Linked DNA regions of Homo sapiens: all the other regions are linked to region 2. Evidence: fine-mapped expression QTL. A gene starts in region 2. Each other region holds a variant in brackets. All regions are shown on one strand. Distances are from middle to middle. Region 1 overlaps LOC105370791 (a long non-coding RNA gene). Region 2 holds the start of PLA2G4B (phospholipase A2 group IVB). Region 3 overlaps EHD4 (EH domain containing 4).

What was found.
Region 1: its variant is fine-mapped to the expression of PLA2G4B in thyroid (GTEx, PIP above 0.99).
Region 3: its variant is fine-mapped to the expression of PLA2G4B in whole blood (TOPMed, PIP 0.97).

Annotation. Positions count from the first base shown.
Region 1 is chr15:41,614,833-41,619,007 of GRCh38, forward strand. The region is part of intron 1 of LOC105370791 (a long non-coding RNA gene); the gene reads right to left. It also overlaps the pseudogene LOC124903614. Among named protein-coding and RNA genes, the nearest start is that of MGA, 43 kb to the right of the region's middle. The variant T/C (reference allele first, on the strand shown) is at 1,973.
Region 2 is chr15:41,836,407-41,840,581 of GRCh38, forward strand. It overlaps PLA2G4B (phospholipase A2 group IVB), which reads left to right and starts at 2,441. Exons shown (of 20, transcript NM_001114633.2): 1 at 2,441-2,516; 2 at 3,752-3,824; 3 at 4,118-4,175. The coding sequence starts at 2,508. JMJD7-PLA2G4B (JMJD7-PLA2G4B readthrough) reads left to right here. Exons shown (of 25, transcript NM_005090.4): 6 at 69-145; 7 at 3,752-3,824; 8 at 4,118-4,175. It overlaps JMJD7 (jumonji domain containing 7), which reads left to right. Exons shown (of 8, transcript NM_001114632.2): 6 at 69-145; 7 at 375-534; 8 at 662-1,175. The coding sequence ends at 750.
Region 3 is chr15:41,928,240-41,932,414 of GRCh38, forward strand. The region is part of intron 3 of EHD4 (EH domain containing 4); the gene reads right to left. EHD4-AS1 (EHD4 antisense RNA 1) reads left to right here. Exons shown (of 4, transcript NR_120332.1): 3 at 111-267; 4 at 443-1,047. Among named protein-coding and RNA genes, the nearest start is that of EHD4-AS1, 8.9 kb to the left of the region's middle. RefSeq lists enhancers at 675-1,178, 1,141-1,220, 1,241-1,370. The variant C/T (reference allele first, on the strand shown) is at 1,626.

The sequences.
Region 1 (4,175 bases), 220 kb before region 2:
TTATTTCCTGATTCTAGAACTGCAACAGGCTGGGCATGGTGGCTCATGCCTGTAATCCCAGCACTTTGGGAGGCCGAAGCGGGCGGATCACCTGAGATCAGGAGTTCGAGACCAGCCTGACCAACATGGAGAAACCCTGTCTCTACTAAAAATATAAAATTAGCCTGGCGTGGTGGCACATGCCTGTAATCCCAGCTACTAGGGAGGCTGAAGCAGGAGAATCGCTTGAACCTCGGAAGTGGAGATTGCGGTGAGCTGAGATCGTGCCATTGCACTCCAGCCTGGGCAACAAGAACGAAATTCCGTCTCTCAAAAAAAAAAAAAACAAAACCAAAAAACTCAAAAAACAAAACTGCAATAAAGCCAATTGAATTCTTTAAAAAAATATATATATTGGCCAAGACTACACTTTCAGGAATCATTTCTATAGTTTGTTACTAGAGAAGTTTCTCTGAATACGTAGAGCAAAATATATAATAAGACAAAAAGGGGGCCAGGCGCAGTGACTCATGCCTGTAATCCCAGAACTTTGGGAGGCCGAGGCAGGTGGATCATCAGGTCAGGAGATCAAAACCATCCTGGCTAACATGGTGAAACCCTGTCTCTACTAAAAATACAAAAAATTAGCCAGGTGGAGTGGCACACGCCTGTAGTCCCAGCTACTCAGGAGGCTGAGGCAGGAGAATCTCTTGAACCCAGGAGGCAGAGGTTGCAGTGAGCTGAGATCGCACCACTGCACTCCAGCATGGGTGACAGAGCGAGACTCCATCTGAAAAAAAAAAAGAAAAAGAAAAAGAAAAAAAGGCCTGTGGGCTGGGTGTGGTGGCTCATGCCTATAATCTCAGAACTTTGGGAGGCAGAGACAGGTGGATCAACCTGAAGGCAGGAGTTCGAGACCAGCCTGACCAACAAGGTGAAACCCCTGTCTCTACTAAAAATACAAAAATTAGCCAGGCGTGGTAGCAGGAGCCTGTAATCCCAGCTACTAGGGAGGCTGAGGCAGGAGAATCGCTTGAATCTGGGAAGCAGAGGTTGCAGTAAGCCGAGATTGTGCCACTGCACTCCAGCCTGGGTGACAGAGCAAGAATCTGTCTGAAAAAAAGAAAAAAAAATGAGAAAAATATATTGGTCAGCCTGGGCAACATGGCCAAACCCTATCTCTACAAAAAATACAAAAAATTAGCCGGGGTGGTGCTGCATGCCTGTAGTCCCACTTACTCCCTAGTAAGTGGGAGGCTGAGGTGGGAGGATTACTTGAGCCCAGGAGGTTGAGGCTGCAGTGAGCTAAGCAGCTGTGATCTTGCAACTGCCCTCCAGCCTGGGTGACAGAGTGAAACCCTGTCTCCAAAAAAAAAAAAAAAATTGGATTTTTGTTTTATTATTATTACAGGGTTTTTTATTTATTTATTTTTTTTAAGACAGAGTCTCACTGTCGCCCAGGCTGGAGTGCAGTGGCACGATCTCAGATCATTGCAACCTCTGCCTCCCAGGTTTGAGTGATTCTCCTGCTCAGCCTCTCTTGTAACTGGGATTATAGGCTCCTGCCACCACGCCCGGCTAGTTTTTCTTGTTGTTGTTGTTGTTTTTTTTTTTTGTTTTAGAGGAAGTCTCACTCTTGTCCCCCAGGCTGGAGTGCAATGGCGCAATCTTGGCTCACTGCAACCTCCGCCTCCCGGGTTCAAGAGATTCTCCTGCCTCAGCCTCCAGAGTAGCTGGGATTACAGGTGCTTGCCAACATGCCCAGCTAATTTTTGTATTTTTAGTAGAGACCGGGTTTCACCAGGTTGGCCAGACTGGTCTTGAACTCCTGACCTCAGGAGATCCACCTGCCTCGGCCTCCCAAAGTGCTGGGATTATAGGCGTGAGCCACTGCACCTGGCCATTTTCCTGTATTTTTAGTAGAGAGGGGATTTCACCATGTTGGCCAGGCTGGTCTCGAACTCCTGACCTCAGGTGACCACCTGCCTCGGCC[T/C]CCCAAATTGCTGGGATTACAGGTGTGAGCCACCGCACCTGGCCTATTACAGGGTTCTTAATATATTGTGGATTTTTGTCCTTTGTTAGATATATGTATTGTGACTACATGTTAATGACTCAGAAGTCTCAATATTAAAATATTAATTATTCATGAATTGATCTATAGATCCAATGCCATTCCACTAAAAATCCTAATTTTCATAGAAGTTGATGAGCCAATTCTAAAATTTACATGAAAATGCAAGGGCCAAGTGCAGTGGCTCACGCCTGTAATCTCAGCAATTTAGAAGGTCAAGGCAGGAGGATTGCTTGAGCCTAGGAGTTTGAGACTAGCCTGGGCAACATGGTGAGACTCCTGTCTCCATAAAAAAACTTCAAAAATTAGCCAGGTGTGGTGGTGCATAACCCTAGCTACTTGGGAGGCTGAGGTGGAAGGATTCCTTCAGCCTGCAAGGTCCAGGCTGCAGTGAGCCATGTTCATGCCACTGCATTGCAGCCTGGAATAGCCAAAACAGTTTTGAAAAAGATAAGTTGAAGGACCTATACTACCGACCTCAAGACATATTATAGTTACAGAAATTAAGGCAGCATAGCAGTAGTAAATGGACAAATTAGGTCAGTTGAACAGAATACAACCTAGAAATAGACCCAAACATATATAGACAATTGATTTTTGACAAAGGTGTTATGATGGACCAGCCTCTAATGATGGACCCTAATCTATCAGGTCACACTCAATAGAGATTACGTGGCATTGAATATCATGATTCCTACCTCCAGGTATTCACATCCATATGTAATCTCTCTTGAGTGTGGGCTGATAGGTGTCAGAGGATGTCACTACTAGAGTTAGGTTTAAAAGAGACTATGGCTTACATTTTGGGGTAACTGTATCTCTCTTGGATTGTTTACTATCAGTAAAGCTAGCTGCCATGTTGTAAGGTAGGCCTGTGGAGAGGCCTATGGGGCAGGGAACCAAGGCCTGCCAAGAAGCACAAAGGAGCTTGGAAGCAGACTCCCCTCACGTTGAGTCAAGCCTTCAGTTGAGACTACAACCCTGGCCAACAGCTTGACTGGAACCTCTTGAGACACTCTGAGCCACTGGCAACCTGGTATGCTGTGCCCAGATTCCTTAACCACAAAAACAATGAGGTAATAAGTATTTGTTGTTTTAAGCTGCTAAATTTTAGAGGTAATTTGTTATACAGTAACAGACAACTAATACAGATGTCAAGGTACTTCAAAGAGGGAAAATAATGTTCAACAAACAGTGTTGGATCAACTTGACATCATTATGAAATAAATGAATCTCAACCCCTACCTCACACCATACACAGATTTTTTAATTTTTATTTATTTTATTTATTTATTTATTTATTTATTTATTTATTTATTTATTTATTTTGAGATGGAGTCTCGCTCTGTCGCCCAGGCTGGAGTGCAGTGGCACCATCTCAGCTCACTGCAAGGTCCGCCTCCCGGGTTCACACAGGTTTTGTAGCCTGGCAAAGTTACTGGAATGGTGGTGATACTACCCATGTAGAGGAATGCTGTAGTACTTGTGTGTAGTGGTGAAGGGACGGATAATTAGCTTGGCTTTGGAAATGCTGAGTTTCAGATGTCTATGGGAAGTTCTGCCTAAGCGAATCCCTCCCTTTTTTAAGGGTAAATGATGAAGCTAGTAGAGGTTCTATGGAACCACTGGAAGGAGGCCAGGAAGACAGCATCCGAAATATTGTTATATAAGTGAAGAGCGAGTTTTGAGGTGTCTTTACTTTGAGATATTCATATAAAAATTTTTAGTCTCCTTGAAGTTCAGGCACAGGTGCCCTCTCTAATCGTCTATCAGCATTATTTTACTGCAATAATGTCTACAGCTCAGCATTTTAACATGTTAAGAAAAAAAATGAAATGAAGGTGGGAGACAATGTAAATATATATACCAACAGATGGGCAGTAGTCACCAAGGATTCCAAAAAAGATCTGTGGTACACGAATCTGTTAGTGTTCCTCTAGCACTGTCTAGGGGAGAAACAGAATAGTGGAGAAAAAAGATTCAACAATGTGCTGTATTGCACAGAGTACAGGGTGCTAGTTTGAATGCAACCTTACCACTAACGAGCACTCACATTCATAGAGTTCATCATATTTATCAGGGATTATGACAGGTGTTCTAAATATTTTGATCTGAGAATCATTAT
Region 2 (4,175 bases):
GTGGAGGAGGGTCTGGCAAGTTCCAGGCTGTTTGCAATTCCCCCACACCCTTCTCCCTTGGGCTCCAGAGCTGTACACGCCGGCAACCTACCAGCTAACTGAAGAGGGCACCTTTAAGGTGGTGGATGAAGAGGCCATGGAGAAGGTGTCTGTCCTGTTCTTGGGCTCTAGGGAGGGAGAAGGGCAGAAGCCTGGCTCTGAAGAACAGGCACAAAAGATCTGGGGAGGTGGCACCTTGCTCTGAAAAGTCTCTAAGTCTGAGGCCTTTCACTGCTGAGCCAAGCAGGGCCTGTGGTGTTGACCTTTGGAAGGGACAGAGCCTGAAGTCCTGGGGGGTCTGGGGGGCTGCTCCCTGGCATCTGATGTGTTCCCAGGTGCCCTGGATCCCACTGGACCCCTTGGCGCCAGACCTAGCACGGTACCCTAGTTACAGTCAGGCCCAGGCCCTTCGCTGCACGGTGCGGGCCGGTGAGATGCTCTATCTGCCGGCTCTGTGGTTCCACCACGTCCAGCAGTCCCAGGGCTGCATCGCAGGTGAAGAGTTGCCCAGGCCGCCTGGGGAGAGGCCCTGTCAAGGTCCAGCAGGGCCTCTGGGGGGAGGCTTGGGAGGCTCTAGGTCAGAAGAGGGATCTTCATGCTCAGATCCCCGTTCTTCCCACAGTGAATTTCTGGTATGACATGGAATACGACCTCAAGTATAGTTACTTCCAGCTGCTCGACTCCCTCACCAAGGCTTCAGGCCTTGACTGATGGAGCACTGGTGAACACCACCAAGCACGCCTCGGGGGACGGAGCCAGCCCCTCCCTGGCCAGGTCAATTCTCGAGAGAGCCTGGAGTGTGCATGCTGGCTGCTGGCCCCGGGTCCAGCATGGCTTGAGATCAGCTTTGGAGGATCTTGGAATGTGGTCATAAGGACTCAAGGTGCCAGGCAGGTCTGGGTGAGGGTTCTCAGGAAGTTGCCACACAGGTGAGCAGAGTGGGGATCAGGTGCAGCGGCACCTCTCCCCAGCGCTGTGATGTTGGGCGAGTCACTGCGTCTCGGGCATTGGTGTCCTGTCAGTAAAGAGATAATAATGGCTGTACCTCGCGGGGCTGTTGTGGGCTTGGAGATGATGTCTATGAGGACCAGCATGGAGCTGGCACACAGGACATGTTGAATAAAAGGTAGCTGTGAGTCGTATGTCCTTTTTTTTTTTTTTTTAAGATGGGGTCTCGCTCTGTCACCCAGGCTGGAGTGCAGTGGTGTGATGTCAGCTCACTGCAAGCTCCGCCTCCCAGGTTCACACTATTCTGCCTCAGCCTCCCAAGTAGCTGGGACTACAGGTGCGTGCCACCATGCCCGGCTAATTTTTTTGTATTTTTAGTAGAGACGGGGTTTCACCGTGTTAGCCAGTATGGTCTTGATCTCCTGACCTCGTGATCCACCTGCCTCGGCCTCCCAAAAGTGCTGGGATTACAGGTGTGAGCTGCTGCGCCTGGCTTATGAGTCGTATGTTCTGATCCTCCCTCTTGAAGTTGCCTTCTGTGGTCTAAGGAGGGCCTGAAGGTTCAGGTAAAAACTTCAGGGTGACCTTCACTGGGGGTGAGGGCTGGATCCCAGCCTGGGCCCAAAGAGCCGTCAGCTGCCCAAGTCCCGCTGTCCATGAGAGTCACCGCAGCCCCTCCCTGGGACAAGCAAGCAGACCTGAGTCTTGTAGCTCTCTGGTCCGGACCTCTTTGCCCAGGACCTTGAGAGCTATTCCTAGCTCTCCTATGGTTACTGTCCTCCCCCAGTTCAGGGGCAGCAGGTGGGACCTGGTGCCCTGGGGATAACCCCTGTTTCTCCCATAACAGGCACAGGCAGGAAGGGACGGAAGCCCCCGCCTCTCCTGGGGCTGTCCCTCTGAGGAAAGAGTTGGTCTCCACACGCTGACCCCCCCACAAACCATGCCCTGGAGGCAGAAGAACCCCCTGCCCCTGAGTGCCAACCCACAGGCCTCATCCCTGGCCACTCAGCACCTAGCTTTGAAGGGCTGTTTTATGTGACAGCCACTCCCCTGCCTGTCGTGAGGGGGCCCGGGTGTTCATCTCAGATTGATGGATCCCTGCCATCAAGACTGGGCATTCCTGTCCAACAGGTGCCAGAGTTGCGAAAGGCCTGTGACAGGGAACTCCACTCTTCCCTTGGCTGCTGTTCTGGGACTCACCCCTGCTTTCCTTCTGCTCAGCCCCTGGCAGCAAGCTCTCCAGGCTGGGATTGCAGGGCTGGGTGGGGCAGGCCCAGCTGGTAAAGGCTGGCGAGTGCCACAGAGGTATCAGGAGCTCTAGTATAGGCTTAGGGTGCCTCATTTCCTGGACAGGTGGCTGGTTCAGGAGTGGGTGTGGAGCTTAGGTGGAGCAGAGGCGGCGGGTAGGAGGGACTTGGGACCAATTGGGACATCACATCCCTGGCTCTGGGTTAGAAAGCTGACAGTCCTTGATCCTGTGGCCACTGCCCCATCATTCCTGCTCCTGAGGACTCAGTCTCATGGCTGTGGTAAGGCCTGGCAGGGCCCTGGGTCCCTACTGGGACCCCTGGTCTCTACCTGGGGCCTAGTTAATATGTTTCTTATGGGAGCTGTGGTCTTCTCCAGGGGTAGGGAGGGGAGTTTATTGACCACAAGACCAGGGTAGCGGGCAGAAGCCAGGGGAGGAGGAGGCTTGGGGATGAGGGATCCGTCCTGAGTGTTTTCTGTCCTGGGAACGGGCTCCTGGCAGAGCTCCCTGGCACCACAGATTTGGGCCCTGGAGACTCAGAGGCTCCCAGCTGCCGCCCTGAGGCCCTGGAAGCAAGTGGCTCCTCCATGCTCCTCTGACTCAGTTGCCTGGAGTGTGAGGGCCCTGGGCTGACCCTGGTGGATGAGGCCCTCCAGCACTGCCCTGGACCTGGTTGCTCCCTGGACTTGACCTGTTAGGGTCCTTGTGGAGGCAGGTGGAAGGCCGAAAGGAAGCAGTTGGCACAGGCTTCCCTGGTCCCGGTGCGCCTGCCAGGCTGCATTCCCAGAACCAGGGGCATGGGTTTGGAGGGAGCTACCGGGGGACCATCTTCAGCCTGACCTGGCAGGACCTGGAGGACATGACAGCCTGTGAGGGGTCTGAGCTAGGAGCCGCCTCCCCTGCCCAGGAGAGAGCCCATTTCCAGGATGCTCTTCTGACCAGGGTGGAGGGAGGGTACGAGAGCAGCTCAGCCTGGGGCCCAAGGCCCTGATGTGCTACTTCCCCTCCCTCGATAGCTTATGTCCCCTGCCACCCAAGACCAGCCGGAAAGCTGCTTAGCTGGGGTGTGGGCTGGGGATGTGGGGTGGAGAGCCTAAAGGATACTAGCCCGAGAAGGTGGAAGCAGGTCTGTGTGAGGCATAAATCTGGAGCCAGCCTGCCCGGGCTCCAACCCCAATTGTGGACCTCAGGCAAGTGACTGCTTCTCTGTGCCTCAGTTTCCTTGTGGAGTGGGCCATCGTAAATAGTATCTGTGCATAAGGTGGTTGTGCGATAAATGAGTTAATGTATGCAAAGCCCTTGGCCCAGAGCCGGCGCAGAGCATTGTGTAAGTGCTGGCAGGCGTCATGATGGAGATATCATGTCTCCTCTTGTTGATTCAGGATTCTGATGAGATGGAGGATGGGCCTGGGGTTCAGGATTAGGCCTTGAGGCACTGCTCCAGCCTCCTTTGTGGCCCCTGTCACCCTTGGCTTCATCGGCCCGTAGCAGGTCTCCCCTCTCCCACCTCTGCAGGCAGAGGTGTCCAGGACCTGCCTGCTCACGGTTCGTGTCCTGCAGGCCCATCGCCTACCCTCTAAGGACCTAGGTGAGTGCGCACCGCCCTGGCCCCTGTGCTGGGCTGAGGGAGGAGGAGGGTGCTGAGGAGGAGGGTGCTGTGGCTGGATTTGGTGGAGGCGGGTGGGCCGGTGGGCAGGGCCTAGAGGAGGGAGCTGAGAGGAGCTTCTGGGTGGAAGGTGGCAGCTGGGGCTCTGCCTCTGGCCCCCACTTCCCCTCCCCCTCAGTCTTAACCCACATGGGGCTCTAGGTGATGGAAGGAAGTGGGTCTGGGCGGCTGGGAAGGGCTCTTGTCCACCGCTGGGCACTTGTTCCTTCCCGCAGTGACCCCCTCTGACTGCTACGTGACTCTCTGGCTGCCCACGGCCTGCAGCCACAGGCT
Region 3 (4,175 bases), 92 kb after region 2:
TTAGCTCTTACTACATTCCTGCACTGCCCTGTGAGCTCCATATCACTACAATCTTGTAATCCTTGCAACAATCCCATGAAGTAGGTACTTTTATTACCCCCATTTTACAGGGGAGGAAAAAAGACTCAGAGAGGTTAAGTATCCGACCCAAGGCACACAGCTGTTTCTCAGGGGAGCCCGGATTCAAACCCAGGGACTCGGATCCTAGAGCCTGTGCTTTCACCCGCTGCGCTGCACCATATGTGTACCAGGATGGTAGAATCAGAGGTGAGTGTACTTTATTTTCTCCTTTTTGATTTGTGGTTTCCTAAGTGTTCTACAATGAATATATATTATTTTTATATCAAGAAAACAAATATGCATATTGTAAAAATTATTGGCCCACTTGCATTATTATTGAGGAGGTTGTTCTTTTTCTTCTACAATGGTGCTTCTGGTGAAGGTCTGGATTCCAGCATTTCCCTGCCAGAGGCTATGGTGGGTGTGCCGAGCACCACCCTGAGGGGGAAGCAGTATCTCAGCAACTACACCCCCGAGGAAGAGGCAGTCCCCAATCAGCGGGAGCAATGGGACCTGCTGATGACAAAATAAGCCACAGAATGAATGGCTCTGCTCCACTGGCCTTCTCTCCTCCCTGCCCCCTTTTCCCCAGCTGACCAGATGCAGGGCAGTGGCAGGGAGGGGCTGATACCAAACCCGGTCTGGGAGACTGCCCGGAGGGAACACAGGTTCCCAAGCTCCTTTTGGAGAGGCTGGATGTGAGTTCACCTCGAACCTTTCAGCTGGTAATGGCCACCTCTTGGAGAATGTAACTGGTTACCAGAAAACCCCAGAGGTTGTCTCCCAGTACCTAGCCTAAAGTGGGTGTGGCCACAGAACCTACCAAAATTTAAATAAAAGCAAGAACTAGGCGTGTCCAGGGATGGCGTTGTGCTGTTTATCCGCTCTCTGCTCTTCCCACTCCTCCTTCCTTTGGGATTTTGTCCAAGACTCTGTAAATTAATTTTTCTGTGCCTGTTTCCTCATAAAATAAACAAGCTAACCTCACAGCCTGTCCCTCCTTCCTCTGGGGGATATGTGACAATAACAGATGGGTGAGCCACATGTCCCTGAAGGCCCCTCCAGGGCAAGGGCGGGAGAGCCCCACATCACAGGTTCGTGCCACGCCACAGACATGGGAACAGAGGAAGGTTCCACGCCAGTACTCGGCCCACTGAACGCTGCTGCTTCTGGGCATGTGACCAAGTGAAAGGGAAAATTGGGTTTCGCATCTCACTTTCCATCTCAGATTAAATACCAGATGAAGAAGCAGGCCCATTTAAAGAAGGCTGAGCCCTGGAGAAAGACAGCAACATGGTATTATCAGTCATTTTAGGCTCTTTGCTGGAGAGGGAAGTTGGTAAAAAAACCTACCAAGAAAATCCTGTAAGTCCTGGAGCCTGGCTTAACAATTTCATTCTGCTGGGCCTCAGTTTCTATACCTGTGAGTCAGATGATCAAAAAGGATTCTTTCTAGATCTTAAATTTTAGCTATATAGGGTGGTTCCAAACAGTAAGCTTCTTTGAAATAAAAAGCCAGATTCCCAGGAAAATCGATTTAGCTCAGCGTCTGTATAGTACAGACA[C/T]GAACTAGTTACAGTGCCAGCCTAAGATGACCCTTCAGATGGCTACAGTAGACCCTTCAGATGGCTACAGGAATACTGAATGAACAACTCTAAATGACACAATTATCAAACAGTAAGTTTCATTTTATTACATCCCTTCTACTGGATTCATGTGCTATATAGCATTTGGGCCAATTTGAAGGTCCTTGAATGTTTCTATAGGTGTAATTAGTTGCCCCAAAGTTTAACTTATTGTCATCCAATTCCAAACAACTCTATACTGAAAGAAACTATCTGAGGAAGGGTTGTGGAATGTATGACTTCCAAGGATGCTTAAGAAGTCACCCCATCTAACCTTCTGATATTATTATATATTAGGATGAACAGATCCAGGAATCCCGTGTCACGCACATGGAAATTGTCCATTCCTCATTTTTCAAGTGGGCTTTGTGTATAAGTCAGGCTAGAAAGTCTCATACAATATGTCTATAAATCAGACGGAGTTGGCGTGGCAAACATTACTTGCACTGAATTTTCTTGAGGCAAAATGCCAACAGACTCCACCCAAATGTGATGAGGTCAAACATTTATAAGCAAGGCTTTGACCGTGACAATGCATCTTGTCATTCTGTGGTTCAGAAGGGCAAAGGTAATGTTTCTTCAGGCTACAGTTTTCTAAAGAGAAATGTTAAACCAACGGGATGACAACTGGGGTCATAAAGGGCTAGAAAGCAACTTCTGACCTGAAGACCCCACCCCTCGCCCTGCCCTGTTCCTCTTTTCAAACATCTTGGCATTGCACAAGTGTCCTGCATGCCTGTGGACAACAGCTGGCACTGCAGACCAGCTCTAGCAATTAAGTTATCAGCTAACCAGCTCCTCAAGCCAAACTATTACTCAGAGACAGTTATTTCTGGGCTTATGTCACAGATGGAAAGAAAGACCCAGTCAGTGGGAACCATGGGAATCCACACGGGGCTCCTTATAAAAAAATGACTCACTGATTTTGCTAAAAGTAGCCCATGTAGTTACCAACAGTATTTCAAAACAGTCAAATACCTCCAGAAAAGGAAATACTTTAAAAAGGTATACATGAAAAGATGCTCAACCACACTAACCATGAGGAATGAAAATTAGAATCATAATGAGATGGTGGGCATGTAAACAGGCATGCCTTCTACAGTGGCATTTTTGGCACCAGCTAACATAATAAAAAGACCGCCGCTCCTTTTGATTCCAAAATTCCACCTCTAGGAATGCATCTTAGAGTTACATCTGCACATTTTTTGGATTAGTCTCTATTTCATTTATTTTTTTACATTGATAAAGAAAAATTGTATATATTTATCATGTCCAACATGTTGTTTTGAAATATGTATACACTGAGGCTGGGTGCAGTGGCTCATGCCTGCAATCCCACCACTTTGGGAGGCTGAGGCAGGTGAATCACTTGAGCCTAGGAGTTTGAGACCAGCCTGGGCAACAAGGTGAAACCCCATCTCTACAAAAAATGCAAAACATTAGCTGGGCATGGTGGTGCATGCCTACAGTCCCAGCTACTCAGGAGGCTGAGGTGGCAGGATCACTTGAACCCAGGAGGTCAAGGCTGCAGTGAGCTGTGATCGTGCCACTGCACTTCAGCCTGGGTGACGGAGCTTCGAGATCCTGTCTCAAAATAAAATAAAACATAAAATAAAGTAAAATTAAATTAAAATAAAACAAAATTAAATATGCATTCAATGTGAAATGGCTAAATTGACAGTGCAATTAGCATATGCATTACTTCACATACTTGTTTTGTTGTGGTAAGAACACTTAAAATCTACTCAGCAATTTCTTTTTTTTTTTTTTGAGACGGAGTCTAGCTCTGTCACCCAGGCTGGAATGCAGTGGCGCAATCTCAGCTCACTGCAACCTCCACCTCCCAGGTTCAAGTGATTCTCCTGCCTCAGCCTCCTGAGTAGCTGGGATTACAGGCGCACGCCACCACGCCTGGCTAATTTTTGTATTTTTAGTAGAGACAGGGTTTCACCATGTTGGTCAGGCTGGTCTCCAACTCCTGACCTCGTGATCCGCCCACCTCAGCCTCCCAAAGTGCTGGGATTACAGGTGTGAGCCGCCGCGCCCAGCCAGCAATTTCTTTTTTTTTTTAAGCTCCTCCCTTTTCAGCAATTTTCAAGATATATTTGCACGTTATCGTGCCAACTGTATACACTTGCACCGTACATGCTAAACTGTGTAAATCCACTGTGGCACTGTTTGTAACGGCAAAAGATTAGGAACAGCCTGAATGTCACCCACCAAAAGGATGGCACCTATTAATTCTGGTCTATCTATATGATGGACTGCGGGAGGCAGCTCCGAAGTACAGACATGGACAAGCTCCAAGATTTACTATAAGTGGGAAAATCAAGACACAGGGCAGTGGAGCGAATCCCGCCAGGGCTCCACGTGAGTGGGCGGGTGAGCTGGGAGAAGCCCCAGGGTCTGCAGGCAGGGTCTGCTCTGGGAGAGGAACTGGGGGATATGGGTGGTACAGACATTCTTCACTATCTTTTTGTAGCCTTTTGT